Homo sapiens: one gene and its partners. The protein of the gene in region 2 interacts with the protein of the main gene of each other region in a pairwise test. Each region holds a gene or a part of one and is shown on either strand. Other genes may lie near its edges. The genes, in order: EFHC2, TXK, JRK and ZNF835.

The links.
Region 1: the proteins of TXK (region 2) and EFHC2 interact in binary tests that used the Homo sapiens proteins (3 or more experiments, as listed by UniProt).
Region 3: the proteins of TXK (region 2) and JRK interact in binary tests that used the Homo sapiens proteins (3 or more experiments, as listed by UniProt).
Region 4: the proteins of TXK (region 2) and ZNF835 interact in binary tests that used the Homo sapiens proteins (3 or more experiments, as listed by UniProt).

Annotation. Positions count from the first base shown.
Region 1 is NC_000023.11:44,332,903-44,340,672, reverse strand, and holds part of EFHC2 (EF-hand domain-containing family member C2), read left to right. Parts: intron 1-7,770. UniProt on the Homo sapiens protein: Microtubule inner protein (MIP) part of the dynein-decorated doublet microtubules (DMTs) in cilia axoneme, which is required for motile cilia beating.
Region 2 is NC_000004.12:48,067,808-48,075,577, reverse strand, and holds part of TXK (tyrosine-protein kinase TXK), read left to right. Parts: intron 1-1,524; coding exon 1,525-1,643; intron 1,644-3,903; coding exon 3,904-4,061; intron 4,062-7,770. UniProt on the Homo sapiens protein: Non-receptor tyrosine kinase that plays a redundant role with ITK in regulation of the adaptive immune response. Regulates the development, function and differentiation of conventional T-cells and nonconventional NKT-cells.
Region 3 is NC_000008.11:142,659,545-142,667,314, reverse strand, and holds part of JRK (jerky protein homolog), read left to right. Parts: exon of another isoform or gene 1-270; intron 271-794; 5' UTR 795-1,256; coding exon 1,257-2,963; 3' UTR 2,964-7,770. UniProt on the Homo sapiens protein: May bind DNA.
Region 4 is NC_000019.10:56,668,516-56,676,724, reverse strand, and holds the start of ZNF835 (zinc finger protein 835), read left to right. Parts: upstream 1-4,967; 5' UTR 4,968-5,149; exon of another isoform or gene 5,150-5,176; intron 5,177-8,209. UniProt on the Homo sapiens protein: May be involved in transcriptional regulation.

The DNA of each region.
Region 1 (7,770 bases), on a different chromosome or scaffold from region 2:
ACTGCTTTTTTTTTTAGACGGAGTCTTGCTCTGTTGCCCAGGCTGGAGTGCAGTGGTGCAATCTCGGCTCACTGCAACCTCCGCCTTCTGGCTTCAAGCGATTCTCCTGCCTCAGCCTCCCGAGTAGCTGGAATTACAGGCATGCGCCATCATGCCTGGCTAATTTTTTTTTTTTTAATTTTTAGTAGAGACGGGGTTTCACCATGTTGGCCAGGCTGGTCTTGAACTCCTGACTTCAGGCGATCCGCCCGCCTCAGCCTCCCAAAGTGCTGGGATTACAGGCGTGAGCCACCGTGCCTGGCTTTATTTGTATGACCATTTATTGGTCACTACTTTTTTGTGTAGTACTTACTTATCTCTTGTCTAATGTTTACTGGGTTGTCTGCCTATTTCTTAGTGATTTGTAGAAGTTCTATATAAATTTTGGGTATCTTCTTGTCTGTGATTGGCCTTTTCCTTCTCTTAATGATGTTTTTGATGAATAATTTTTGGAAAAGATCACTCTTTCTCCATGTCTCTGCAGAGCCACTTTGTCAAAAATCAAGCATCCAGCTACGTGTGGGTCTATTTCTAGACTCATGAATATTTAAAACATTTATTTACTTTATGCCTGAGAACAATGGGAGTGTGTGCGTGCATGTGTGTATGTGCGTGTGTACTAGAGAATGACAGTACCTTGGACTCATTCAACAAATCAGTATTTATTTATTGAGTATCCTAGTATATGCCAAAATTAGGTGACTACATTTAAAAAATTGTTACACTAGCCTTGGTACTAAATGTACTGTGTGTTGCCCACAAATTAATATTTTAAAAACTTGTACTTAGTTAAAAGATTGGATGTTCTCTGGCATAGAATGGTTAGAAAGTCAGTAAAGCCATATCTGGCCTTTTAGTCTTGCCCTTCCCCCCTCCCCTGCTTGCTGAATTAAATTACCAAGTGAAAAACCTTGGCCTCCTGTAGATAGCATAATTACTTGGCTGTTTGGATTTAAAATTATAACACAGCTAACTTTTATTGCTTTTCCATAGAATTGAAAAGGAACTTATGTGCCCCTTACTTAGCTGCCAGTGGTCAGTCAAAAGCAATAGATTGATTTCTGTCCACGGCTAGGTGATACGCAACCTGTATTTCTCTCTCTCAAATACAAGAAGTATGGTGCCTTCTAAAATATGAACATTTGTACCTCTGATGACATTACAATTATTTTGATATGAGTTGAAAACCTTAGGGAAATATCACAACTAAATTCTAGATACACTGTATCTTTTTTCCAACAATTTCCATGCTGAACTTGTATTGAGCAAGAGAATCTTGGGCATATTATCAAAATTGAAAATATTAAAATTAAAAGGGACATTTCCAGCCAAAGCCAAAAATCCTTTCTGCAGTATTTTGGACAGATGGTTGTGTGGCCCATCCTGATCCTGAGTGTCTCTAATGAATGATGAAGAGCTCACTCTTTCTGCTTTTTTTTTTTGGAGATGGAGTCTCGCTCTGTCACCCAGGCTGGAGCGCAATGGCGCCATCTCGGCTCACTGCAACCTCTGCCTCCCAGGTTCAATCGATTCTCCTGCCTCAGCCTCCTGAGTAGCTGGGATTACAGGTGTGTGCCACCACGCCTGGCTAATTTTTGTATTTTGAGTAGAATTGGGGTTTTACCATGTTGATCAGGCTGGTCTCGAACTCCTGACCTCAGTTGATCCACCCGCCTCAGCCTCCCAAAGTGCTGGGATTACAGGCGTGAGCCACCGCGCCTGGCCGCTCTTTCTGCTTTTAATGAAGCTACCTTGCCACCATCTTAGGAGGGTTTGCTGTAAATAGCCCATCATCTAATTTGTAGTGAAGCAAAGTCCTCCTTAAGAAAAAAGAAAACATATTTGAATTTGCAGCAATAAAAAAAAAAGGAATTTAATGAATCATGACCAGCTTTTTTTTTTTTTGAAAAGGAAAAAAGAAAAAGAAGAGAGTGGGGTAGAATGAAGAATTAGAGTGTATTATGCTTGAGAGGAGTTAAGTGTTGCACGGACCTTTTTGTCCTTCCTGTGTGTGCTTGTGTATGTATGTGAACTGGCCTGCACTAAAATATGCCTATTACTGTGGTTGTGCAATCAGTGTTTGAAAAACACTCATTCGAGCCATCTCCATCTTTTTTTTTTTGCGATAGGGTCTTGCTCTTTCTCCCAGGCTGGGGTGCAGTGGCAGGATCACAGCTCACAGTTCACTGCACGCAGCCTCAACCTCTCGGGCTCAAGACATCCTCCCACCTCTGTTGCCACAGTAGCTAGGACTACAGACATGCACCACCATACCCAGCTAATTTTTTAAATTATTATTTGTAGAGATGCGGTCTCACTGTATTGTCCAGACTGGGCAATTCTTATTTAAATTTAGATCTTCAGCTTCTTTCAAGGTCAGATCTCATCTCTCACCCTTCAAAGAGCCTTGTCAGCCTTTCTTAATGTATATTTTTAAATTTTTTGAGGTAAATTTCATGTAACATGAAATTAACCACTAACTATTTAAAAGTATACAATTCAGTGGTACTTGGTACATTCACACTGTTGTGCAACAACTAACACCTCTAACTAGTTTCAGAACATTTTCATCACCTCAAATCTCAATCTTTTCACCCTGGAGGAGTCTTTGAAATGATTTTGAGGTCTTAGAGAACTCCTGCATAAAAACTATATCTATAGCCCATGGTACATTAGCACAATCTGTGATAATAAATATGTAATTACATAAAAAGATGTTCAACATTATAGCTATTAGGGAAATAAGAATTAAAATCAAGATGAGATACCACTGTATACCTATTAAAATGGCTAAAATCCAAAACACAATACCAATTGCTCACATGGATTTGAAATAACAGGAATTCTCACTCATTGCTGGTGGGAATGCGAAATGGTAATTTCTTATAAAGTTAAACACACACCTGCCATATGGCCAGTTCCGAATTTATGTGAAATAAATAAATTCCCATAAATAATTCTGGGTTAAACTCAAAATAAGCACATATCAATTTCATTTTCAACTGGAATGAGAATATTGTAGCTATAATAATCCAATAATAATTGTCTTTTTAAAGTAAAAAATGGTAGTTTTCTGTGGATCTCTTGATTTCAGCCAACTTATTTACCTACTCTTTCCCTTTCTCACAAAGGGTTATCAACCCTAAAGCAAGTGGGAATGTAGAAGAGGAAACTTCAGGTTGTTTTATGGTAAAATTTTCTACTTGATTTATTTTTCCTTTTTACCTTATCCAAGTAGGCCTAAAAGTTCTCTATAGTTTCTATTATAGAGGGTGCTATTGAGGAATGATATATGGTATATGGTATGAACAAAAGTAGTTTTCTCCCCTATTAAAAACTGAAAAGGACTTTTTACCAGCTTTTTTGAGGGAAAAAAAACCCAAAACAGATAGTTAAACTTAGCTTACCTTTCTTTCCTTTCCATACATTCAAAAAACTTTTCAGTCAGCATAATATAAACATGTTAAATAATTCAAGTTATTTCTGTTTATATCTAAGATGGAATTTACTTTTTCAAAAAGTAGGCTAAGATGATTTAATTTAAATAAAGGTTGTAAACTCGTAATTAATGCTGTTTTCAACATCAAAATGTATTGACAATGTTACATAATAAAGCTACTAAAACTATATGACAAAGCATTATGAGTAAAAATATAACCTAAGATATAATTTTATACAAGACTTAAAAATTAGGTTCTTTTACTGACTGACATGATTGGGCTTAAATATAGGCAGTTACAAAATTATAATCTTGATTTCTTTATAGACCTGTATGTACATAACAGTCTTATTTTTTAAAAGCTAAAAATAAATAATAAAATTTACCTCTCCACTCTGAAATCTGTGTTTATATTTTGCCACATAAATAATTCCGGGTCAAGCTTGAAATAAGCACACATCAATTTCATTTTCAACTGGAATGAGAAGATTTCTGGCCTTTTCAATACTTGTTAAACAAGGAAAGCTTTGCTTACATGTATAAGAAGTTGAAAATTATAGCAAAATGGTCATTGCTCTCCTATGAATGGCAGGATGCTTACTTTTATGTAAATTTTGAACTGGCCATATGGTAGGTGTGTGTTTATCTTGATAAGAAATTACCATTTTGCATTCCCACCAGCAATGATTGAGAATTTCTGTTATTCCAAATCCTTGTAAGCAATTGGTATTGCCAGTGTTTTGGATTTTAGCCATTTTAATAGGTGTATAGTGGTATCTCCTCTTTTCTCTCTCTCTCTTTTTTTTTTTTGAGACTGAGTCTCACTCTGTCGCCCAGGGGAGTGTAGTGGCGCGATCTTGGCTCACTGCAACCCTCTGCCTCCCAGTTCAAGCTATTCTTCTGCCTCAGCCTCCCGAGTAGCTGAGATTACAGGTGTGTGCCACCACGCCCGGCTAATTTTTGTATTTTGGGTAGAGACGGGGTTTCACCATGTTGGCCAGGCTGGTCTTGAACTCCTGACCTCAGGTGATCCACCCACCTCGGCCTCCCAAAGTGCTGAGATTACAGGCCTGAGCCACCACACCCGGCCTGGTATCTCCTCTTGATTTTAATTTTTATTTCCCTAATGGCTATGATGTTGAACATCTTTTTATGTGCTTATTTGCCATCCGTATATCCCCTTTGGTGAAATGTCTGTTCGTGTCTTCTACTCATATTTAATTGGGGAGTTTCCTTACTTGAATTCCTGACCTCAGGCGATCCGCCTGATGAGTTTTGAAAGTCATTTTTAATATAGTCTGGATACAAGTTGGGTGCAAGTCTATTATTGAATGTATGGTCTGTAAATATTTTGTTCCAGTCTATGGCTTGAATTTTCATTCTCTTAAAGCAAGGCTAAAAAATATGTACATATATTTAAGGATAAAATATAACATGAGTTCAAAAACTATTGTTTTCAATGCAAATTAAGGATTATAGGGTTTTTACTTCTTTGATTTTATATATTTACATGTAATCTTGCTTCATAAGTACATTAGCTGAATTACTTATCCTAACATAAATAAAAATATACAACCATATAATAATTTTTAATTAATAATAACATTATTAACAATTTGAGTTTTGAAAATAGTTTAAGATTTCTTTATAGCTATTTCTGTTGTGAGAGTATATCCCACCAGGAATGTATAGTCAAATTACTGGGTTTTAGTTTCATTTAAATCATTGCTGTCGGTATGGTTAAGTCACCAACTCAGTATCTAGTTAGGTTCATTTGTTTCATTGTGCTTTTGTTTCTGAACTTAAAAAAAGGCATTTGTATGGTCTCAAAGTCAAATTTGCAAAGTAAGTTACTTTCAGAGAGCTCTAGCTTTTATCTCTGTCTCTTCAATCTTATTCTCTCCCTCTCTCCATAATAACTTAAAGAAAAAACTTTATTTAGTTTGAGGTTATCCTCTTTCTCTTCCTCCTTCTCTTCTTTCTTTTTTTTTTAATTTTTAAAACAGCAAATTGTTAAATTTATTCACATGTTCCCCTTTTATTCAATACTTGGTAGCATAATCTACACAGTCTTTTGAACCTTCCTTTTTTCATTTTAACAGTATATCTTGGAGATCACTTGGTAGTGGTATATAGGGCTCTTCCTCATTTCTTTTTATAGTTACATAGTACTCCATTTTGTAGACTTACAATAGTTTATTCAACCATCCCCTTTTGGTGTACAGTTACATTATTTCCAGTCTTTTGTTATCCAATAATGTTGCAATAAATAGCCAAACTGTGCTTCAAAAGACACTATCAGAAAAGTGAAAAAGCAGCTGACAGTGTGGGAGGAAATATTTATAAAGCATATTATCTGATAAGGGACTATATTCAGAATATGTAAATAACTCCCAAAACTCAATAATAAAAAGACAAATAGGCCAGGTGCGGTGGCTCATGCCTGTAATCCCAGCACTTTGGGAGGCTGAGGCAGGCGGATCACCTGAGGTCAGGAGTTTGAGACCAGCCTGACTAACATGGAGAAACCTGTCTCTACTAAAAATACAAAACTAGCCGGGCGTGGTGGCGCATGCCTGTAATCCCAGCTACTCGGGAGGCTGAGACAGGAGAATCACTTGAACCTGGGAGGCAGAGGTTGTGGTGAGCCGAGATCGCACCATTGCACTCCAGCCTGGGCAACAAGAGTGCAACTTCATTTCAAAAAGCCAACAAACAAACAAAAAGGCAAATAATCCAGTTTTGGTGGTATGGGATTGCTGGGCAGACAAAACAATTGCTGTCTACTATGCTAGATCACAGGATAGTTTTGATATAAAGAATTCTGTCACTTTGTTCCCAGTAACTATTAAAATATCCTTGAAATTACATTATTTCAGATTGGGCCGCTTATTGAAGCTGCCATCCATACTTTGGAAATAACATATTCCATTGCTATTCCTAAATGTTCATTTGAATTTCAGGAATTAGAGTCTCTTTGCCTATGTAGGATTCAAACACCTAATTTTGGTCACCATGCATTCTGTACTGAACTTCGTAGCTCTGTCACCTAGGGTACATTTGACTATAAGTCACAGAATACCTGACTAACAGTGGTTTAAGCCAAATTAATTTTCTCATAAGAACTTTAGAGGTGTAGCAGTTTCAGATTTAGGCAGTGACTGATGAATGTCATAAAGAACCCAGGCTCTTTTTATCTCTGCATTCTGCCATCTTCAGAATATTGGCTTTTCTTTCTTAGGCTTGTGACCTCATAGTTGCAAAATAGTTGCCTCAGTTCCAGTCATCACAACTACATGTAACCATGTTCAAGACAAGCAGGAAGGAGAGGGAGGGGAAACAGCTCTTCTTATATGAGAAAACAAAATGTTTTCCAGGAGCCCCCCAGTAGATTCCCTCCTTCCATCTTATTTGCTAAAATTGATGCACATGGCCATCCTTTACTACAAGGAATGCTGGGAAATTATCTTGTTTTTTTTTTCACCATCTACTTTTGGAGGTGGGAAAGGGAAAAGAGGGTTCAATAGTGGCCAACAAACTTTGTCACACCAGCCACAGACAATACCTGTGAGTCTGGTATTGTCAGACTTAGTAGTATCCCTTTCATTACAATTTGTGTTTTTAAATTATACAAGTAACACATGAGTATATCAATATTGCGAAGGATACCAAGAATACTGTTCTTTGTAAACTATCTTCTTTTCCATAATGGGAAACAAGCCTAATACTCCAGTTAATCCAGCATGTTCACTGTTTGTCCTTTGGGTATATTTTGGACTTTTCCACTCAATTATTAGTTTGTTTGTCCCCTTGCCTGATAGCAGCATCCTCATGCCTCTTCCTCTTCCCATCTAGATCCTGACCTTCCCTCAAAACTTGGCTTTAATCCCCCCTCCTCATTAAAGCCTTCCCCGATCATCTCAGCAAGAACCATCTGTCTACATAAGCTTGCATGCTCATATTGCCCATTTACCGCCTTATTTCCTGCGTTGTGTTTTGTGTTCTTTATGTGTGATCGTGGCAGTCCTCAGTTGACTAAGAAACTGTGATTGGTGGCTCTTTGGGTTGCCCTTCACGTTCTCAGTGCCTTCCTTACACAAACCGGGTCCTTAATAGGTGATTGTCCATTGCTGCCTCTACCTGCAGCAACCATGGTTGAAACATAGATGGAAATAAACACAGCTTGGGGGAATCTTCTCTGGAATTAGTTTCCTGCTTATGTCTTCCGCTGCTGCTGTGGAACAAAATAGTTCTTGTTTTAGCAATAGTGAATATAAAGGATGAAGAAAGTC
Region 2 (7,770 bases):
CCCAGGCTCAAGCTATCCTCCTGCCTCAGCCCCCCGAGTAGCTGGAACTACAGGCACATGCCACCACGCCCAGCTAATTTTTTATTTTTGGTAGAGGCGGGGTTTCACCATGTTGGCCAGGCTGGTCTTGAACTCCTGACATCAAATATCCACCCACCTCACCTCCAAAAGTGCTGTGATTACAGGTGTGAGCAGTCTCACCTGGCCGGCGTTCTTTATGATTACAAAACTCCATGGTGTGATCTCAGATCTCATTTACCTAGGCACATCCACAGCCATTTGTTCACTGGCATCTTTCTGCCTTTCCAAGGGCTCCACCTGGGGAAAAGAGCACTGGTTCTGTGTCACTTTTAAATCCCACCAACCTAATGTGGGAGTAGGAGCTTCTTTCCTAAAGTACTTGGGCAGCCCTTTAGGGTACAAGATACAGGACCCTAACCCACTGATCTACTAATGTCTAGTACCCCCCTTTTCTTTCCCTTCTATTTCCCCCATTCCTCTTTTTGGGGGAAAAAGATCCCCCCAAAGCTCAGGGGATCTTTTTCTAGATAGTGGTGGTAATAGGGGTGGTGGTAGTGAGATCTCACTCCTGTTCATGGCCCATTTTCCAAGATATTTTGTTAATAACTCAATCTTTCTTCTCTGAAGAGCCTAGACTTGAAAAATTCAAAATCTATAAACAGTGGCTTTTCTCTCTTTGTTTTCTGTTAGTCATTCTTTACCTAAGTAGAATGACCTCTGACTCAATAAAGTGCTGACAGGTGGAGGGAGGTAGTGTATTTAAAAAAAAAGTGAGAGTATAGGGGCAGCATTAATAAATGCTGTGAAAACACTATATTGTATATTTAAGGGGCAACAAGCACAAGTTTATTTTTGTCTCTTCTCCTCAGTGTCTGACATTTGGACATCCCGGTGTACAATTCTCAAAAAAGAGAGAGGGTTCAACTTGTTATTTTTTTAAGGAGACGGTAGTTATTCTTGGTTTCTTTCCATATAGGGCCATTCTAGTGCATTAGAGATTTGTCATATCAGAAGCATTATGTTCATATACTTTTACTTTCCCCCCTTCTGTATGCCCCACAAAAAAACATGCACATGGAAGAAAATTCGACATCCAACTTTGAATCATTCATTTCCATTTTAAGAAGAGTGGTCTTTGTTTTCCCCACCCCTGGGAAGAGTGGTCTTTTATTTCCTTTTTATAATCTTGGTTGTTAGAGCCTTTAGCAGGCTTCTTTGTAGAGTTAAGAATTTACCATAATTAACATAAACAGTGAGCCATGTTTTGAACTGAAGCAGCATTATGATTTTCAGAGGTCCACGTAAAACAAATACAATTGAGACTTTGTTTGGGGAGGAAACATTATCAGGGACACTTTCACACTCTACTAACAAGAAGGCATCCACAACCTTTCTGGGGTAAAATACTTTGTCTTTTAGCAACTTAGAGTTAACTAAAGGGATTTGAAGTAAATAGAGCTTGGAGGTAATTAACACAATATGCTTTGAATCTGATAAACTTAGGTACGTTTTGGATGATGAGTATGTCAGTTCTTTTGGAGCCAAGTTCCCAATCAAGTGGTCCCCTCCTGAAGTTTTTCTTTTCAATAAGTACAGCAGTAAATCTGATGTCTGGTCATTTGGTGAGTGCATCTGATGTTCACTTGCTGGAGCTTGATTTAATAAAATGGGCAATGTGTTATTTTTAACTTTGATTTCCTAATTGATATAGCATTTTTTAAAAAGTCTTCTTGTAATTGTGCTTCCTTCTGTGTGTTCTAACCACATCCCGACTGTCTTTGGCAACTGGTGTCACATACCTTCTTACATAAGTCTGCCTTTTGGATCTTTTCCTTCCTCCATGGGCACTCACTATAAAACCATAACAAAGAGTCTACTGATCTAGAAAACAAACTCAGATAAGTTTTCCACTCCGCAGAGGCTTGAAGGAAAAATGATCTTATGACATTGTTTAGAGTGTAATTAATAAACTTAATTGTCTAAACTGTGAAGCAGGTTGACTATTTTCCAGTTGTTCAGTTGTTAACCTGAACTTAAAACCTGAGTTTAAAAAATGGTGGCATCTCATTTACTTCCTTAACTTTAAAGTTTGTGGAATTTAGACATAGGCTTCCTTGGGATCTATAAATTGATATTCATATTGGATAATGTTCTTCATTGAGAAAGAGACACCATAGACCCACGTCCAATGAAGTTTCGGGGTTGATTTTCAAAAAATGGTAATAAATATGCAAAAATCTATCTATCCTCTTTCACCCCAAACTTCCTGGAGGCTTGTGGGTTCTGGGTCCTCAGAAGGGTGTCAGTTTTATTGTCTACAATAAGGTTAAAACTGGGCACAGTGGCTCAGGCCTACAATTCCAGCACTTTGGGAGGCTGAAGTGGGAGGATTGTTTGAGACCAGGAGTTCAAGACTAGCCTGGGCAACCTAGCAAGACTCTGTCTTTACAAAAAAAAAAAAAAAATTAGCCAGGTGTGGTGGCATATACCTGTAGTCCCAGTTCCTCGGGAGGCTGAGGCAGGAGGATTGCTTGAGCCCAGGAGTTTGAGGTTATAGTAAGCTAGGATCGTGCCACTGTACTCCAGCCTGGATGACAGAGCAAGACCCTGCCTCAAAAAAATTAAAACATAAATTTAAAAACATACAATAAAGTTAAGCTTGTGTCATTAATCTCATTAGCTCTCCATGGACATATGATAGTCTCAGCAGGTGACACTTGAAGCTCTACTGAAGAGCAATTAGGTTGTGAGACCACATCTTAGAGACCAATGAAGAGCAATATAACGACCTCATCGAAGGTTGCCAAACAATTAGAACTCCCTGAATTTTACCTACTTGTCTCCCTCACTGAACAGTGAGCTCCTTAGGCACATGGATTGATCTCACACTTATAAAATCTCCAGGCCCCAGCAGAGGCCTCGCCTCTCATCAATGTCTAGTAAATATTTGTAGAATAAGTGAATAATTAAATGAACTCAAATTAGGAGTTCTTGCAGGAGTTTCACTAATCAATCAATCAATGATTATTGGACATCTACTTATGTACAGAGCCCCTGCTAGATATTCTGGGGCTCTGCCCATCAGTCTAATCTTTTAGCAGAAAGAAGGGGACACATGCCATTTACTGGCTGAAACTCTTGGCTAAGTAGGCAGCAGAGGCTCACATAATCCTGTCAGTTTCTATGGAATGGCAGAAAGGTTCATTGATTTCAGGATGCAGGAACGTGACTGCTGCTTAGAAATGAAAATGCTAGGCCGGGCGTGATGGCTTACGTTTGTAATTCCAGCACTTTGGGAGGCTGAGGTGGTCGAATCACCTGAGGTCAGAGCTCGAGACCAGCCTGGCCAACATGGTGAAACCCCGCCTCTACTAAAAATAGAAAAATTAGTTGGGCGTGGTGGTGGGCACCTATAATCCCAGCAACTCAGGAGGCTGAAGCAGAAGAATTGCTTGAACCCGGGAGACAGAGGTTGCAGTGAGCTGAGATCATGCCACTGCACTCCAGCCCGGTAGACAGAGGTTGCAGTGAGCTGAGATCATGCCACTGCACTCCAGCCCGGGCGACAGAGCGAGACCCTGTCTCAAAAAAAAAAAAAAAGAAAAGAAAATGCTACTGGCATTTTCTCCTGATAGGAGAGGCAATCAAGACCCATGGACAAGGAAAGGCATTGTTTTCACTTAGATTATTTTCAGGTTACAGGCCTCTTTGAAAACTAAAGTGAACATGATTTGCTTCCTTGACAGAACCGCTGTTATTCAGGATGGTTATAGCCCAAAGCCTGGAGCACAAAAATAATGCCTTGTAGTTTGAAATTGTTCTTTCAGTTCCCAAGCAATCATTTCTCTCTAACCCCTTGTTTTCCTGCATTTTTGTTTGCAGGAGTTTTAATGTGGGAAGTTTTTACAGAAGGAAAAATGCCTTTTGAAAATAAGTCAAATTTGCAAGTCGTGGAAGCTATTTCTGAAGGCTTCAGGCTATATCGCCCTCACCTGGCACCAATGTCCATATATGAAGTCATGTACAGCTGCTGGCATGAGGTAAGCATATGTTACTTTCCTATGAAGGTTGGCAGTCCCAGCATCTGAGAGCAGACCTGATTATCACAAACATTACTTCAGAACTCTGTCATGGCAGGAAAAGGCATCTGTGTCTTGGTCATGATCCTGAGAGTCTGAAGTACTATCTCAAACTCACTACAAAGTCATGAATCCATTTTGTTTTGAACAATGGCCTTTTATCTGAGGAATTCAGTGCATTTTCTGAGTCTTATCTGTTTGAGATTGGTTCTTGCAGAAACTCTTGGTGTTACTCAAGCCTCAGTGATTAGATGTTTTATTAGCTTTAAGAATTAATGGGCCGGGCGCAGTGACTCATGCCTGTAATCTCAGCACTTTGGGAGGCCGAGGCGGGTGGATCACCTGAGGTCAGGAGTTTGAGACCAGCCCAGCCAACGTGGTAAAACCCCATCTCTACTAAAAATACAAAAATTAGCCGGGCGTGGTGGTGCATGCCTGTAATCCCAGCTACTGGGGATGCTGAAGCAGGAGAAGAATCTTGAACCTGGGAGGCGGAGCTTGCAGTGAGCCGAGATGGCGCCACTGCACTCCAGCCTGGGCGACAGAGTGAGACTCCATCTCAAAAAAAAAAAAAAAAAAAAAAAGAATTAAATGATGGAGGCTGTGTGTGGTGGCTCACGCCTGTAACCCCAGCACTTTGGGAGGCCGAGGTGGCCAGATCACTTGAGGTCAGGAGTTTGAGACCAGCCTGGCCAACATGGTGAAACCCTGTCTCTACTAAAAATACAAAAATTAGCCAGGCCTGGTGGTGCATGCCTGTAATTCCAGCTACTTGGGAGGCGGAGATAGGAGAATTGCTCGAACCCAGGAGGCAAAGGCTACAGTGAGCTGAGATTGCGCCACTACACTCCAGCCTGGACAACAGAACAAGACTCTGTCTCAAAAAATAAATAAATAAATAAATAAGCAAATAAATAAAAGAATTAATGGTGGAAACTAAGGGTAGAACCAGGCTTGTTAAATTTCCAGGTTGAAAAAGAAAGATGGTGTTTCCATTTACTTCACTCAACTTTGCTTTGTCTTGCTTTTCCAACGCTAATAGTAATGGGTTTCATCTGTCTTCTGGCAGTCAGGACTCCTGCTACAGATTAAACTAGAATAGGAATGGAGGCAGAAAGTGTGTCAGGAACTTCCACTCAGGAAGAAATCTCTCCAGAACTTAGTTTTTCTATTTGTTGAAATGCCAAGCTTAGAAATAAAGCCAGAGGGGCTTCTTTTCCACCTCTGGGCACTGACTCAACACACCCCTGCCCTTCTCAGTGAAATTCCCTTTGATTTTGAGAGCTTTGGTCTCTTTCCAGCTGACAGTTTCAGCTGGAAATTGCAGCTTGATGAGAAGTTTCCTCCTGGCTGAAAAAATAAAGCACTTGATTATCAATCCACAAACACTAGAATATTGAATATTTTAAGAGTGATGTGGTTATTCATATTCCAAAAGCATTACATTTATAGAGAGCCCCAATGTATGAAAATATTTTACATATATTAACTACTTTACAAGGAATCTTGAAAGACATAGAAAAATGCTCAGCAAGCTGTAAGAAAAAAATGTTCAGAAAAATGTTCAGTGAGTAGTAATAAGCAGCCGTTTTAGGAGCATCTTTGCAATAACAATGTAAGTAGCTCAGAAGTATATGTTGTGTATGAAATAATACACACGTGTGTGTGTAATATAATGCTTATTGAGATGTTATATGTAAGTGGAACTGAGACATAGAAGGAGGAAGGGAAGTGATAAGTAGGATGCTGTCAGAAGGACCATGTAAACAACATTTGTCTCAAATTGCAATCAGAACATTGATTAATACAATGGTGTGGTTATGTCGATTTATTTGTTTGAAAAAGTTGATTTGGCCGGGTGTGGTGGCTCATGCTTGTAATCCCAGCACTTTGGGAGGCTGAGGTGGGCGAATCACGAGGCTGGGAGTTCGAGACCAGCCTGGCTAACATGGTGAAACCCCGTCTCTACTAAAAATACAAAAAAATTAGCTGGGCATGGTGGCGGGCACCTGTAATCCCAGCTACTCAGGAGGCTGAGGCAGGAGAATTGTTTGAACCTGGGAGGCAGAGGTTGCAGTGAGCCAAGATCCCACCATTGCACTCCAGCCTGGGTGACTGGGCCAGACTGTCTCAAAAAAAAAAAAAAAAAAAGAAAAGAAAAGATTGATTTATTTTTGAGACAGAGTCTTGCTCTGTTTCCCAGACTACAGTGCAGTGGCACAATCACATCTCACTGCAGCCTTGACCTCCTGGGCTTACGCAATCCGCCCAGCTCAGCCTCCTGAATAGCTGGGACTACAGTGATGTGCCACCATGACCAGCTAATTTTTTAAAATTTTTTCTAGAGATGGGGTCTCACTTTGTTGCCCAGGCCTCAAGCAGTCCTCCTACCTTGGCCTCCCAAAGTGCTGGGATTACAGATGTGAGTCATTATGTCAGGTGCAAAAGTTGATATTGCCTACAGCTTTACCCCATGTGCTTAGGGCATTAGAGTCAAACGTGATTATGCTATCTTTGAGAGACAAATTTCAGGATTCATGCGCAGAAACAGGCTCCTCACAGAGCTCCACAATTTATGCCCAGAGTCTCAATAAGGACCCTCACTTGCACTTGTGCTGTCTTCTGCTCTGTTTATTTTACTGATGCTCTCTGTTTATAAGCCATGAAGAGGGGTGTCTTTCCGCTGACCCTACTGTCAATGACCCCTGTGAGAATGTGGCTACTATGAGTAGCTCTGTTTCCCATGGTTTTAAAAGATGCTGACAGTGCCATCTCTTCTTCCTCTTGGAATCAGAGCTAAACCACACCCCTAAGTGAAGTAGGAAAAAATGCTCCAATCCTTGGCTCCATGACCAGGGATATGGGGTCACTTATGGTGAATATCTTCCTTTAGAGTTGCTGACTCAAAAACTGTGCAAAGATCACAGGCTTTTAAAACTTTTTAAAATGTAAGAATATTCAGCAATCATTTTTCTATGTGTGAGAGGGACTTCCACACTCTTATTTTTCTGTTGACTGAGACTGAAAGCACAACCTGTGCCCCAAGACCTTCAAAGTCCCTCATGAAAACATGCCTTTTGCTTTCTGACTGAAATCCTCCTTTCTATAATGGCTCAGGTGTCATAGATACCCTGAACTGAGCTTGGGAGCCTGGTATGCTAGATGCCCCTTCTCCCAGCCCTTTCTTTACCTCACACATGTCAAGTCATTCAAATATATCTCTAGGGTCGTGGTGTCCTAGAGTACTTTCTGAGATGCTGAAACGTTCTATATCTGTGCTGCCCAATATGGCAGCCACTTCTGGCTATTGGGTTCTTGAAAAGTGGCTAGCACGACTGAGTAACTGAATTTAAACATTTATATAATCTTAAGGAATTTAAATTTAAATAGCCACATGTGGCTAGTGTTTGCAGGTCTAGCCGTTTTATTTTTGCAACATTCTCTAACATTTTCATATTCACGCCTCACTCAACTGCCAATCATGCTGTGCTATGTCAGTCAGTCAAGATATCTTTCTCTTCCTTTTTGTGAAGAGCCAGCCTGGATTCAGGTCTCTGCCAGCAAGTTCCAGAGCTGGTCTCTGAGTGATCCTTAGCCTATTTATGCCGCAGGTGGCAATTTTTTGAATTTTTGCATGAGTGAAAAATCAGACCTTGGCGATGACCTCGAG
Region 3 (7,770 bases), on a different chromosome or scaffold from region 2:
GGCAGGGTACCCTGAGCTGAGCTTGAGGGGTCCCCTCTGGAAGAGGCCTGGAATGGTCACAGCTGTCTGTCTGCTGCGGCTCCTTGTAGACGCATCTGAGTGTGTGGCAGTCAGGGAGGTCAGAGGGTGATTGAGAAACTGGCAGCACCTCCTAGCCCTTGGAGGAGCTTGAGGCCTGCTGTTCTAGAGAAACTTCTAATGCCTTGTTTTCTAGAGGCAGTTTGGCGCTCTGTGTCGGAGAGAGGAGTTTAGAGACCTGCTCCAGATGGGGTTTGTAAGATCTTTGGCGGGGAGGGTAGTGAGGAGTTCCTCCTCCCTGCATCCCTCCACCCCTGCCTCTGCTCCTCAGGGAGGAATAAGGGATTTGAGAAGCTCAGGTAGCCCAGCGAGCAGTTACAGCAAGAAGCTTAGGCTGGGCGGGTGGGAGGTTTGTTCTTGGGTCCGCCCAGCATCGGACTTCCTGGCTTCCTCTGATGGCTTCTGCCTGAGCGCTTCCCCAGGAAAGGCCGGGCTGCTCCTATGAGAGCCACGTCTCGTTTCCAGCCCTAGCGAATGGCTTCAGTTTGCTTGGTGGGAGTTGGGCAGAGTCCACCTGAGCAGCACGTGCAGGGGCTGGGCAGGCTGGGCTGCTCCCGGGGCCACCCTCTCCCCACAGTGCATGCCAGCACTTGCATGGGTCCTCTCAACAGCCCTTGAGTTTCAGCTGGAGTGTCCCGGTGAGGAGAGTCGTGAGGACGCCATGTGTGTCCTGGGCGCGCCCCATCACTTTCCTCTCTGTTCCCTCTGCTTTCCAGCCCCTGAAGTGCTGTGCCTGGAGATACCATTGTGGACCCTGGAGAGGCACCTGCTGCTTATGCGGTAAAACCTCTACCACCCCAAACCTGGTCAGTTTGAGGGGAGCCGCTGCCATAGTATCCACAGAGAAGGCCGGAGTTCCAGCCGTGTGGAGCAGCAGAGGGGAGTCTGACAGGGTCACCTCCTCCACAGAGAGAATTGGCAGCTGACTGCACTGCCAGGAGCCAAGGCCTAGGTGTGTGGAGCCTGGAAGACCAGGGATACCTGAGGCAGGAGGTGCAGCGTGTGGAGTGAGAAACCCGAGAGGGACTGGGGCCTGTGCTCAGGATCAGCAGAGCAGGCAGGCAGAGTGGAGAGGGAGAGACGGAGCCCCAGAAGGGGAGCAGGAGGAGAGGGAAGTAGTGGCAGCAGCCCAGGCCAGGCGTGTGTCCTGCAAGTGCTAGGACCAGCCACCCCTCCCCATGGCCTCCAAGCCGGCTGCCGGGAAGAGCAGAGGGGAGAAGCGGAAGAGGGTGGTGCTGACACTGAAGGAGAAGATTGACATCTGCACGCGCCTGGAGAAGGGCGAGAGCCGGAAGGCACTGATGCAGGAGTACAATGTGGGCATGTCCACCCTCTACGACATCAGGGCCCACAAGGCGCAGCTGCTCCGGTTCTTCGCCAGCTCCGACTCCAACAAGGCGCTGGAGCAGCGGCGCACGCTGCACACGCCCAAGCTGGAGCACCTGGACCGCGTCCTGTACGAGTGGTTCCTGGGGAAGCGCTCCGAGGGCGTCCCCGTGTCAGGCCCCATGCTCATCGAGAAGGCCAAGGACTTCTACGAGCAGATGCAGCTCACTGAGCCCTGCGTGTTCTCCGGAGGGTGGCTTTGGCGCTTTAAGGCCAGACACGGCATTAAAAAGCTAGATGCATCCAGTGAAAAGCAGTCAGCCGACCACCAGGCCGCGGAGCAGTTCTGTGCGTTTTTCAGGAGCTTGGCTGCTGAGCACGGGCTGTCCGCCGAGCAGGTTTACAACGCTGATGAGACCGGCCTTTTCTGGCGGTGCCTGCCAAATCCCACTCCGGAAGGCGGGGCTGTGCCTGGCCCCAAGCAGGGCAAGGACCGGCTGACCGTGCTGATGTGTGCCAACGCCACGGGCTCCCACAGGCTCAAGCCCTTGGCCATCGGGAAGTGCAGCGGTCCCAGGGCTTTCAAAGGCATCCAGCACCTGCCCGTCGCCTATAAGGCCCAGGGGAACGCCTGGGTGGACAAGGAGATTTTTTCCGATTGGTTCCATCATATCTTTGTGCCCTCGGTGAGAGAGCACTTCAGAACCATAGGTTTGCCGGAAGACAGCAAAGCCGTTCTCTTGCTGGACAGCTCCCGGGCTCACCCGCAGGAGGCCGAGCTGGTGTCCAGTAACGTTTTCACCATCTTCCTGCCTGCCAGCGTGGCCTCATTGGTGCAGCCCATGGAGCAGGGCATTCGGAGAGATTTCATGAGGAACTTCATTAACCCTCCGGTCCCCCTGCAGGGCCCCCACGCCCGCTACAACATGAACGATGCCATATTCAGCGTGGCCTGTGCCTGGAACGCAGTCCCTAGCCACGTCTTCAGGCGGGCCTGGAGGAAGCTGTGGCCGTCGGTTGCGTTTGCCGAAGGCTCCTCCTCTGAGGAGGAGTTGGAGGCAGAGTGCTTCCCAGTGAAGCCCCACAACAAGTCCTTTGCACACATCCTGGAGCTTGTGAAGGAAGGCTCCTCCTGCCCGGGCCAGCTTCGCCAGCGCCAGGCCGCCAGCTGGGGGGTAGCGGGAAGGGAGGCAGAAGGGGGACGGCCCCCTGCTGCCACGTCGCCAGCAGAGGTTGTGTGGAGTTCAGAAAAGACTCCGAAAGCTGACCAGGACGGCAGAGGAGATCCTGGTGAGGGCGAGGAGGTGGCCTGGGAGCAGGCGGCCGTGGCCTTTGACGCAGTCCTGCGCTTTGCGGAGCGGCAGCCATGCTTCAGTGCGCAGGAAGTGGGGCAGCTGCGGGCGCTGCGTGCCGTGTTCCGGAGCCAGCAGCAGGTGAGGAGGCGGCGTGGTGCCCTCGGGGCTGTGGTCAAGGTTGAAGCCCTCCAGGAGGGCCCTGGTGGCTGTGGGGCCACAGCTCAGTCTCCCTTGCCCTGCTCATCCACAGCAGGTGACAACTGATGGCTTCTCTGCCCTGCCCTGGCCACTGGCCCTGTTTCTCCCCACACCCTGGAGTGGCATGGTCCTGTGCCCCGACCCCACCTGAGGCAGGAGGGCATGTGCAGACACTCAAGAGCCCTTCCAGGAGTGGGTCGCCCACGGGTGTGGCTCGGGTGCCCAGGACGGTCTGTGCCCGAGGTTCCTGTCAATACAGGTTTTATTTTATCACTTGCCGTGTCATCCGAAAGTGAGGAAATGTTTTGGAAGGGTCCACCCTAGCCTAGAACAAGCCAGAGCCGCACCCTGGCTGGAATGGGGGCCAGGCTGAGCCGATCTGGTCTCGTGTTCGCTGGCTGATCATTGCAGTATCAGAGGGTGGAGATGTCAGTCTGTCCACGTGGAGAGAAGTTGCCCTCCAGGCCGACAGGAGGCCATGCCCACCGCCCCTGGACAGGCTTCGTCTCAGAAGGCTCTATCTGCTGGGCTGGCGGCCATCCCCGTGTTGGGTGGACCCCGAGCACGGTTGCCTGAGGTCCGATGGCCCGAGAGCTGGGACTCAGTTCTTGGCCTGCTAGCGGCTGAACAGGCCGCACATCTCACTTCAGTTGTGGCCTCATTCAGCAGAATGACTCTGGAACCATCCTCTGTTACCCGCAGATCCTGTCCCATGGGCTCTGGCCCCAAGATGTTGGGGGGCCCCACGGAGAGTTGACTTGGTAGAGTTCCTTTCTGGGAAGAAAGTAGGAGTGGCTGACCAGGCCCTGCTCATCACCCGGATAGAGGACACGGACCCTGTGTGGTATTTTGGCATTTTGGCTCAGAGTCCAATGTACCATGTTGCCCAGAATTTCATACTTATGGCCTTTACATGAATACGTCTTGATCAGACATTCAGAGATTAGTCTTAGGTTTGCACGTAAGTCACTGAAAACAGTAAAACAGGCTGCTTAGATTTCTAGCAGTATGTGTGCTCTTATCCCCAGCTGTTAGCACGTTAGTAATACTTTTGGGGAGGAGTTGTCTGTCCTGGTCAGTTTTCACAGAGGCGGTTGTAAGAGGATGTGGTTATTTTCTCCATGTCTGTAGTTGCTTTGCGGCATCTCCATTTCACGGGCAACACTCACTGCCTGCAGCTGAGATTCCAGAACGCCCTGTGTCCACAGTGATTAGCCTCGTCTTTCAGCGAGCATAAAATAGGTGCATTGTCCTTTTCTTTTCTTGAGGCAGGGTCTCACTCTGTTGACCAGGCTGGAGTGAAGTGGTGTGATCCCAGCTCACTGCAGCCTCGACCTCCCTGGCTTGAGTGATCCTCCCGCCCCAGCCTCCTGAGTAGCTGGGACTAGAGGCACGCACCACCGCGCCTTTTTATTTTTTTTGTAGAGACAGGGTCTCACTGTGTTGCCCAGGCTGGTCTTGAACTCTTGGCCTCAAGCGATCCTCCTTCCTCATCCTTCTAAAGTGCTGGGATTACAGGTGTGAGCCACAGCACTCGGCCTAAATAGGTTTTTCTTGCTATGTTATTTTCAGTGCTTTGCCCTTGAATTCTTTTCCTCTCTTAAATTCATATCATTTGGCCGAGTCAGCACGTAGTTTGCATTCCAGCGTCTGCTGTTGATTCCACTGAAACCTCTGTTCTCATGAAGGAGAGGATTTGGCTCGCTGTGGTTTCTCGTACTTTCACATCTCTGTAGATACAGGGGCAAAAGTCATTGCTGACAGAGCCCTATCTATGTCCTGGAAGTGTGTGTTTCTTGCTTTGAATGCATGTGTGAAGATTATAAAAGCCAAATAGTTTTTAAAGATCTCGGTGCTGAACGACAGTCCCAGTTCCCATTTGTGTCCCATTGTCTTTGTGGTGTCACCCGCACTGTTTGCTTCATTGTCTGGGGAACTTCTGCACATCATGTACTTTGTGCCATTTCTGGGCTCACGTGTCACTCCTAATAGAGCCTCTTAACCAAGACTGCTGGATTGCAGCTGCTTGAGGCAACACAGGAGGTTAGAACATGTCCCGAGGGCTCTGAAACAGTAGGACATCCTGGGTGGGTGGAGCTGGGGAGGGCATGGGCAGGCCAGCTGGCCGAGCTCCTGGCTGGCTCTCCTGAGTCCTCTGGACATGGCTTGTCCCTGTCAGACTGTAGCTCTTCAGGACCTGAGCTCTTCCCGTTCTTGATCTGCTCTTGTGCTGACTGTGCTGGGCTGATGGGTAGGCGCTTGTCCCCAGTGAGTGGCTGTGTCCTCAGGGTGCCCCTCTTCCAGACCAACTGCAGCAAGGCCTGGAGCCTGACTCTAGGTGCAGCCCTTGTGGCTGGAATCCCTTGTGCCACCCAGGGGACTCGGGCCCTGCTCCTCCTGCAGCCCCTCCTCACCTGGGCTCGCTGCTGGAGTGAGGTTTTTAGGGAGCCCAGAGCGTACTCATCTCTGAGCTGCTGGGCCCAGCTGCCTGGTGCATACCTCTTGCCTCGGTCCTGTCCCCCAGAACGCTTTATGGAGACTGCCGTGTCCTCCGAGCACTTTGTTTTCACTTCCTGACCCGTCTCAGAAGCTCAAGTGGTTGAATGTTTTAGCCTCAGAATCTTTTTCCCCAAGCCCTCTCAGGTGGAGCCCCGCTGTACCAGACACCACAGCACAGCTCTGTGAGGCTGTGTCTCTTCACTCTGTTTCTGGGGCTGCTGAGGCCCCTGGGAAGCCCTGGAGCTTGCCAGAGCAGAGCGAGAAAGTCTCTGGTCCTGTTTAAATGCCTCCGCGTTTTATCTGTGAGCACCAGGCTGGAGCCACTCCCTGTCTTCTCACAGTGCCCCTGCAAGTTGCAGCCTCAGTTTTCCAGTGGCTCGTGGGGTAGCAGGTGCTGCGTCATATGGTTTGGGACCTCTGTGGCTGCTTCCAGCCTGCTAATAGAACCTCTTTCCACCACTGCCTTCATCTTTGGGGTGGCACCCCTGAGTGCTCAGGCCTGAGGGCGCTCCTGTGTCCTCACTCGGGACAGGCAGCCTCCACTCTGGGAGCTCCCATCCCTCGGGATGCCCAGGAGAGGCCATACTTTCAGGGTGGCATGGTGAATTCAGGGGTTAGGATGGGTAGGTGGTCTTTCAGCCCCTTCTACGTTGGGGTTGGTTTACAGAACACCTGTCCTGCCTGTGCCAGCCTGGCCTTCTGCGAGCACCCCAGGCACGCTGTCCTGGAAGTTGTCTGTCTCCTGCATAGGAGGGTCTAGAGCAGACCTTGCCCTGGGCCTGTCTGTGCGTGACTTCCATATGCTTCATTCGTGCTCAGCCATGGCTGAGCATGCGATGGAGAGCACCTGGACTGCCCCTGACGTCGCAGGCCACTGTTCTTATCCAGTGGGCCAAGTGATTGATTGCTAGTGGTGGAGTTGATTGGAAGAAAGGAAGTCGCAGCCCCTGCCCACGGCTTCCCCAGCTCGCTGGGGTTGGAGGACTGTCATCAGTTGTCCCCAGTTAAAGTCCATTTGGAGGAGGTTCAGGGTCCCAGTGGCTGGATGTGCTTGTGGAGGGACACGGTTTGAGGCAGGGGTTTGCAGAAGGTGTAGACTGCATCCATTCTTGGGAGGCTGTGGCACAGGGCAGCGACAACTTGGGACAAATCAAGACCCGTCCACACTGCACCTCAGGGACCTCACCTCACGCCCCACATAAATGTGCTTATTGGGGATCCGGGTGTGGTGGCTTCTGCCTGAAATCCCAGTACTCTGGAAGGCCACGGCAGGAGGATCACTTTAGTTCAGGAGTTTGAAACCAGCCTGGGCAACATAGGGAGACCCCATCTCTACAGAAAGTAAAAGAAAATGAGCCAGGTGTGGTGGCATGTGCCTGTAACCCCAGCTACTCAGGAGGCCGAGGCGGGAGGATCCCCAAGCCCAGGAGTTTGAGGCTGCAGTGAGTTATGGCCTCTGCACTCCAGCCTGGGTGACAGAGTGAGAGACCTAATCTCTAAAAACAAAAAATAACAAAATGTGCTTTGGGGTCAGGTGTGGAGATCAGGGTCGGGGAGGTCATGAGGTAGGTAGGGGTCAGGATGTGGACAGTCATGGGCTGGTGGGTGTGGCAGCCGTGAGGGGTGGGTGGTGGCCTGGGAGGCAGGGCCTGGGCAGGGCTTCTGCACTTCTGCTGCTTACCCAGCCCCCTCTGGGTTCGAGGACTCTCCTTGACAAGGGCTGAGCTCTCGGGCACTGCGTTGGACTCAGCTGCCTACTGGGAGGCTGGGGAGAATGGACCTGTGAGACCTTGTTTGTCCTCTTCCCTGCCCAGCTCTTGTAGACCCCAGGCCTGGCTGTCCGCAGGGCCAGGAGCTGCAGCCATGGCAGCCACCAGCCTCCCACATGAGCCCCAGCTCCCAGCCCCACACGCCCACTCCTTTGCCCATGTGGTGTCAGCTCTGGCCTCTGCTTCTACACATGGACCCTCAGACCTTGCACATCTGTTGTTTCCCTTGCAGGGCAGTGATGATGACATGAAATGAGGTGGGGTCACTCCTGTTTAGGGATGAGACTGGGGCCCAGGGAGGGGCAGGTGTGAAGTTGCTGAGGGCAGAGGGAGACCCAGGGCTACCTGCTCCTAATGACCAGCCTCACGTTCTCCACTGCTCACTCCCTGCTGTTCACCAGCTGCATGACCTTGAGCAGTGCACTCAACTGTAAACAGAGGTGAAAACACTCCTTTACCAACTGTTTTAGGGGCCACTCTTGTTTGAGGCCTTGAACCTCCTTTCAGTTCCGTGGTGGTCCTGAGCCTCTGAATCTGGGTATGGCCCCTGCTGGGTCCTGGTCTCTTAGGCAGCACGATGGCCTCCCTGCTCAAGGCCCTGCACC
Region 4 (8,209 bases), on a different chromosome or scaffold from region 2:
TTGATGTAACAAGATTTGTGGACTTTCACTCAGCTCTTATTTAAGCCGGTGTTTAGAGCCTGAGCCCTTGACTTGGGAGGATATCATAAATCTTCCTCTAAGCCAATTTCAAGGTGACCACACTCCAGTTAGCACGGTGATCATGAACCAGGGAAAGCAAAGTACTCCAGCCTCTTGTGGGTTTTAGATTCAGGATGTGAGCTTAATGCCCCATTTTACCCATTGTGATGAGCCAAATTGTGCCCCACCACCAAATTTTATGTTGACGTCCTAACCCCCCATTCCTTGGAATGTGACTGTACTTGGAGATGGAGAAAGGGAATTAAGATAAAATGAGGTCATTAGCATGGGTCCCAAGTCCAATATGACTGACATTGTTTTTTGTTTTGTTTGTTTGTTTGTTTTTTGTTTGAGATGGAGTCTCAGTCTCTCGCCCAGGCTGGAGTGCAGTGGCGTGATCTCCACTCACTGCAACCTCCACCTCCCGGGTTCAAGCTATTCTGCTGCCTCAGCCTCCTGAGTAGCTGGAACTACAGGCATTTGCCACCACGCCTGGCTAATTTTTCTATTTTTTTTAGTAGAGATGGTGTTTCGCCATGTTGACCAGGCTGGTCTGGAACTCCTGACCTCAGGTGATCCACCCGCCTCAGCCTCCTAAGATGCTGGGATTACAAGTGTGGGCCACCACACCCGGCCCATGGCTGACATTCTTAAAAAAAAAAAAAAAAAAAAAAAAAAGAGTGTGGGAGAGATTAGGACACAGACACACACAGAGGGAAGACCATATGAAGACATGGGGAAGATGGTCGTCTGCCAGCCAAGGAGAGAGGCATCAGGGGAAACCAACCTTGGCCATAACTTGATCGTGAACTTCCATTCTTGAGAACTGTGAAGAAATAAGTTTCCATTGTTTAAGACCCTGGTCTGTGATGCTTTGTTATGGTGGCTCTAGAAAACTACTCCACCATCTGATCTCACGTTCCTCAACGTCACACTTTCATTTTCTTCCAGGGGGTGTTTAAGACTTAATGGAAGTGACCAAAGAAAACCACAGAAACCGGTTCCTGGAAGGAGCTGCCTGCCCTGGTTGCCAGAGCCTATAGCTGGGTCTAGAATCTTCCACCCCTGGGTAGAGGCTGCCTACTGGTGTGTGACAAACATAGCTGGGACATGGAGTCCCTGCCTCAGGGTCTCTGAAACGTTGTGTGGCCTGATTTGATTGTGCATTTCCTCAGCAGCCCAAGCCAGCATTTTCTGGGGACATTTTTGCCTGATTGTGAAGGTGTTTTCTTAGTGACCACAGAAGTACATTTTCTCCAGGCTAGGAAATGAAAGAGGCAAAGTGCTTTAAAGAGGCAAAGTGCTTTAAAGTGTAGGCCTGGCACAGTGGCTTATGCTTGTAATCCCAAGACCAGGAGGCCAAGGCAGGAGGATCGTTTGGGCCCAGGAGTTCAAGACCAGCCTGGGCAATATAGTGAGACCCTCATCTCTACAAAAACTAAAAAATAAAAATAAGTAAAAATAAATGTTAACACAGAGGAGGCATAGGCATCACACAGAGAGGGGTTCGAATCCCAGTTCCTCCACTTGCAACCTTCAAAATCACAGACAAAACACTTATCCTCCAGGAGCTTCCATCTCCCTGTGTGTCAAATGTGCGCTGCAATGTGCTTGACATGTAAAGAGACCATCTATCAGGTGCTAAGGCTACTGCAGCAAAGCACCGCCAACCTGTGGCTGCAGCAACAGACATTTATCGCCTCACGCTTCTGGAGGCTGGAAATCTGAAATCAGGGTGTAGGCAGGGATGGTTCCTTCTAAGAGCCATGAAGAAGAATTTGCTCCAGGCCTCTCTCCCTGGTTTGCAGATGGCGGCCTTCTCCCTGTGCCTCTACATATCATGTTCTCTCTATGCGTGTCTCTGCGTGCAAATGCACCCTTTTTATAAGGACAGCTGTCATTTTGGGTTATGGCCCACCCTATTTACTCATTTTAACTTTATTACCTCTGTAAAGAACCTGTCTCCAAATAAAGTCACATTCTGAGGAATAGGGGGTTAGCATTCCAACATATATTTGGGAGGGGGGTGAGCATAAATCAACCCCCAACAGGTAAATGTGGCTTTCTAAAGAAAATTGTCTTAAAAACCATATTTAAAGGAAATGAATATTTGAGTTGTTTCTGTTGTCCATCCTTTGAGGAAAATGTCCCTTCTCATGAAGCTTCCAGAAGGAAGAGGGAAGCACAGAATGCCTCTTGAGGTCTACGAATAAGTAAAATATGAACTGTAAATAAAGCATGTGTCATGGTTTAAGGGCAGCCGTGGGGCTACATAAAGTAATGTGGAATCTCACAATCAATGGCATGTTGGTTTAGTGAAATGCATTTTTTTTCCCATTCTATCTTCACAGATTTCTCTGCTTTTCCAATTATCTAAAAATGATCTCATGCCTATGTTTCCAATGGCCAAGGGAATAATTTAGGAAGGCTAACAGAATTCCTTCAGAGCAGGCACCTTAAAATAATGCCGGCCAATAGTAAATGCCATGTGCATGTCAACTATTAAAATTATTTAAGGCCGAGGTGGAAGGATTGGAGTTCAAGACTAGCCAGGGCAACATAGCGACACCTCATCTCTACAAAAAATAAAAGTTAAAAAAAAGTTAGCCAGTGTGGTGGCACATGCCTGCAATCTCAGCTACTCAGGAGGCTAAGATGGGAGGATCACTAGAGTTGGGGAGGTCGAGGATGCAGTGAGCCGTGATTGTACCACTGCACTCCAGCCTGTGCAACAAAGCGAAACTGTTTCTAAAAAATAAAACTCTCTCCTGCCTCTGCCAGGAGAGAGCTTGTTCCTCCAACCCCAGGAGGCCAGGCAAGCATGGACAGGAGCCAAGGGAGCAGGGTCATGAACTTTTTCATCTTTGCAAAGTGGGCACTTGGCATCAGGGTCCCATCACCAGAAAGCACCAAAGCCCCTGGCACCCCACCCACTCCATCCTACCCAGGGACCCCAAGTAGGCAACTGCTATGGCAGTGGGTCCAGCCCAGGCCGGCACTGCCAGCCTCCTCTCCCTGCAGTAGGCACCAGCTCTACCTCCCCCGGCAGGCAATGTCCTGGCTTCTCAGCCCAGCACCATCTGTTCCCCTAGACTTCTCAGGGGCCAGCCCAGTCTGGGCCACCCTTTCCCTCATCCTCGGCTCCCACACAGGTGACAGGCCCAGCAGATAGCTTCTCTCTGGGAAAGGTTGGATGCTGCCTTACATCCCCTTCTATCCCTCCTCCCATCCACACACACAGGCACCCACCCACACCAGGTCTGCTTGTTTCTCACATGTAGGGAGAGGGGGGGAGACCAACCCCTTTGTGTCTTTTGAAATACGAAGAAAAATGTGTGTTCAGGAGCATGACTCCAGTGCTGGGCTCTTGGGCCCAGTTCAGTCTGTCTTGTCTCAAATCTAGGCACTTTTGCTTCAATTTTATTTTTTTTAAGAAAACAAAAACAGAAATCTGCACTAATTTACCTGGTTCTTAGGAAAACTTTTTTTTATTTTTTACATTTTTTGGTGTCCGTTTGTATTGAATAATTTGCTACATTTGTAAAATGTAAGAGGTATATATAATATATGTATATTTCTAACGTAAAAACAATTTTTTTCTTTTCAAGATTTTTTCTTAAAAAGATGAGAGAAACATATTTTTTCAGGAAAAACAAACTTTAAAAAAAAAAGAGGAGAAATAAAACCTTTTCTCCCCTTTCCCCATCCTCTATCTATCCCTGTTTCCCAGGAACAAATCAAAAGGTGGATTATCTTCTGAAGAATGGAAACTGTTAGTCCAGAATGATGTCTTTTTCTCAATGCAGTGAGTTATAGATTCTCTAGTTTTCTCCCTAGGGATGGGAAGGGGGCATTGACGCAAGCCTGGAGAGGAGCCCGGGGAGCAGGGTCATGAAGTTTTTTCTTCAGTGAAGGAGGAATACAATCAAGGGTTTTGTATTCAGAATGTTGTGCAATATTTTGGAATAGGACATTGGTGTGTTTAGAGATTTTAGTTTAAAAACAAAACAAAAAGATTGATCAAATCTGTACAGTTTCTATTGTTCCAGATTTTTTAAAGTTTGTATTAAAAGCATGATACATAATAAAAATAAATAAATAAATAAAACTAAAAAGTAAAATGAAATTCTTCATCTATGTTAATGGATTTGCCACCTTCTTTGCCATAGACTGGAATGACATCAGCTACCTGAGACCAAAATAAAAGTGTGGGTTGCAAACCCTGGCACCTACCTTTTTAGATTCCGCAGCCTGCAGTAGGGACTTAGCCTGTCTGAACCTCAGCTTCCTTCTTTCTTCTTCTTTTTTTTTGAGACGAAGTCTCGCTCTGTCACCCAGGCTGGAGTGCAGTGGTGCGATCTCAGCTCACTGCAACCCTCGCCTCCCAGGTTCAAGCCATTCTCCCGCCTCAGCCTTCCAAGTAGCTGGAAGTGCATGCCACCATGCTCGGCTAATTTTTGTATTTTTAGTAGAGACGGGGGTTTCGCCATATTGGCCAGGCTGGTCTCGAACTCCTGACCTCAGGTGATCCACCCGCCTCGGCCTCCCTAAGCGCTGGGATGACAGGTGCCCGGACTCAAGTTCCTTCTTTCTAAGCCTGTGGGCTCGGCCTCATCCCCTGAGCAAGAAAAAAGTCCCACCCCTGAGTTACTGGAAGCGCCCACCGCCATGCACTGAGGCTGTAGTGGGCGGGGCTCGGGGCAGCAGCCCGGCGCTCCTCGGGCCCCCAGGGGTCAGCGCCCTGCGGACCTAGCGTGTGCAGACGCTTAGCCTTCTGGGAGTTGTAGTTTCGATGACCCAGGCTTTGCAAGCTTTAGTCGCGGTGCCGGCGAGCGCGCAGCGCCCCCTGGGAGTCGTAGTTCCTAAGAACCAGGCGGGCCCGATGCGCAGGCGCAGTCCACCCCGGCCTGGTGCGCGGGCTCCTCCGCAGCAGCAGAAGTCTTGACCTTAGCTCGTCTAAGGAAGGAGGCACCAGGGTCTGCGTTGGCCCAGGAGGACCCGAGACTGAGTAGAAGCGGAGCCGACTGCACCAGGCTAGGAGGGGGCCGGCCAGCGCGTTCGAAGGTGATACCGGGAGGCGAGAGCAACGGTGTGTAGTGTGCGCGTGTTCCTGCAGGTGTGTGACCGCGTGTGAGCCCGTCCCCGAGTGCCATTGTGTCTGCACCTGTTCACTTAGCGGTGTCAGCCCGTATAGGTGTGTGACTGCCTGTGAGCCCGTCCCTGAGTAACACAGCGTCTGCACCTGGTCACTCGACGGTACCAGCAGGTGCAGGTGTGTGACTGCCTGTGAGCCTGTCACTGCATCTGCACCTGCTTACTCGGCGGTGCCAGCCCGTCACTGTGTCTGTACCTGCTCACTTGGCGGTGCCAGGCCGTGCAGGTGTGTGACTGGCTGTGAGCCTGTCCCTGAGTGTCACAGCGTCTGCACCTGCTCACTCGACGGTACCAGCAGGTGCAGGTGTGTGACTGCCTGTGAGCCCGTCCCTGAGTGTCACAGCGTCTGCCCCTGCTCACTTGGCGGTGCCAGCCCATCACTGTGTCTGTACCTGCTCACTCGGCGGTGCCAGGCCTTGCAGGTGTGTGACTGCCTGTGAGCCCGTCCCCGAGTGTCACTGTGTCTGCACCTGCTCACTCAGTGGTGCCAGCCCAGGCAGGTGACTGCAGGTAAAGGCATGTAACACTTTATCGGTGTGTTATGTGCTCGTTCATGTGAAGCGGTGTCTGCATATCACAGCATGTCACATACACGTGTGGCTGCCTTTGGGCAAGTCTGAAAGTTCTCCTGGATGTGAGGTGTGTGACCCCACGTGTGCATGTCTGGGTGTGCCGCCGTGTAGGCTGGCTCGGCCCGTGTGCCTGCCAGCACAATGATGGGTGACCTGGCTGTGCGAGCCTGTAGAGTGCCGTGCTGTCTGAAGTGTGTGCATCTGCACATGATGGAGACGCTGCACATGTGGGCTTTGGCTATGCTGGAGCTCTATCCACCGAGTGTGACTGCACATGTGTCCAGCCATCCCCTGTGGGTGTGTCCCAGTAATGGCCGGCCTGTGTGGAGCAGGTGGCATGTGTGACCTTGTGCGTCTCTGTGCACCTCTTCACACAGGGAGCTACGTGTGGGGCTGGGTGTGTGTGTAGCTACGTGTGCCCGGGACCCTGTGTGCATGTGTGAGTGTGGCTGCAGGTGATGGCTTCCCACCTGCCTCCTTGCATGGGGGTTAGGAGGGCGACTGTGTGTCCCTGGATATGGGTTTGGGTGTCTCTGCATGTCTGTGTGTGTCTGGGCAGGTATGATTGTGTATGACCCTGTGTGTGTCAGAGTGTGATGTAATGCATGTGTCTTCCTGTGATCTTGTGATATAATAAGAAATATATGTTTAATCTTTATCCCCAGCTCCTGGTACCAGAGCCCCTAAAACCCTTGGAATTTCCTGAGTGACAGGGGTAGAAGGAGTGTCTTCTGCAACTCTTAATAAGCCCCCTGCAACCACACCTGTGTTTATGCTAATGGAGGACTCCTGATAGGCCCCCAAGTACATTTATGCTAATGGAGGACTCCTGATAGGCCCCCAAGTACATTTATGCTAATGGAGGACTCCTGATAGGCCCCCAAGTACATTTATGCTAATGGAGGACTCCTGGTAGGCCCCCAAGTACATTTATGCTAATGGAGGACTCCTGATAGGCCCCCAAGTACATTTATGCTAATGGAGGACTCCTGATAGGCCCCCAAGTACATTTATGCTAATGGAGGACTCCTGATAGGCCCCCAAGTACATTTATGCTAATGGAGGACTCCTGGTAGGCCCCCAAGTACATTTATGCTAATGGAGGACTCCTGATAGGCCCCCAAGTACATTTATGCTAATGGAGGACTCCTGATAGGCCCCCAAGTACATTTATGCTAATGGAGGACTCCTGGTAGACCCCCAAGTACATTTATGCTAATGGAGGACTCCTGATAGGCCCCCAAGTACATTTATGCTAATGGAGGACTCCTGATAGGCCCCCAAGTACATTTATGCTAATGGAGGACTCCTGGTAGGCCCCCAAGTACATTTATGCTAATGGAGGACTCCTGATAGGCCCCCAAGTACATTTATGCTAATGGAGGACTCCTGGTAGACCCCCAAGTACATTTATGCTAATGGAGGACTCCTGATAGGCCCCTAGGATGGGCTGGTTGCCACGGGAGCTAGCCCTGATGAGCATTCCAGCCTTCAGCCAGCCCCTACCTCCTGGGAGGGGAGAGGGCTGGAAGTTGAGTTCATCACCGATGGCCAGTGTCATCACACCTATGTCAGTCACGCCCGTGTCATGGAACCCCCATAACCACCCTAAACTTAGGGTTTGCCGAGCTCTGGGGCTGTCGAGCACCCAGAGAGGGCATGGTGCTCTGAGCTCCTCCTTATACCTTACCCTGTGTGTCTTCCATCTGGCTGTTCCTGAGTTGTATCCTTTATTGGAAACCAGTAACCGTAAATAAAGCATGTCCCTGAGTTCAATGAGCTATGTGAGCAAATCACCAAACCCAAGGAGGGGTTGAGGCAGTTTTATGGTTGGTAGCTGCCTGTGCCTCCCAGTCAGAGCAGATTGGAGACTTGGTTGTTGGTGTGGAGAAAGCCCACGTGTCAGAAGTGCTGGGAGTAGACAGCTTTCTTCTACTGCCCCCAAGCAAGCCTGTGTCTCCCCTTGGGCTCCTTTGTGTGTGCACAACACCCAGGTTTACCCAACCCCGCTGTGAACCCACCTGCCCTCCCCCTACACACGAGGTGGGTACCCCTGCACACTCCGGGGATGCCGGTGGACGTGGCACCTGAGCCGACCCAGCCTGGCCCCCACCAGCAAGTTCTTACCAGCACACGTGACTTCCTGTGTGAGCTGACCCCCACCCCACTCTACCGCATCTCCCCTGCCTTGCACCTCAGTTGCTCTGTCCAGCCCCACCCCCTTTACCTTTCCTCTGCCACCCTTGTCACCATCCTGCCCTGGGACCTTTGCACTTGCTGTGTTCTCCACCCTGAACACAAACATCATCACTCCCTCAGGGTCTCCTCTTGTCCTCTTGCTGAGGCACACGCTGCGGGAAGAGCATGTCAGGCAGAAAGAATAGCCCACACAAAAGCCCTGTCTTGACCAGGTGTGGTTGGTG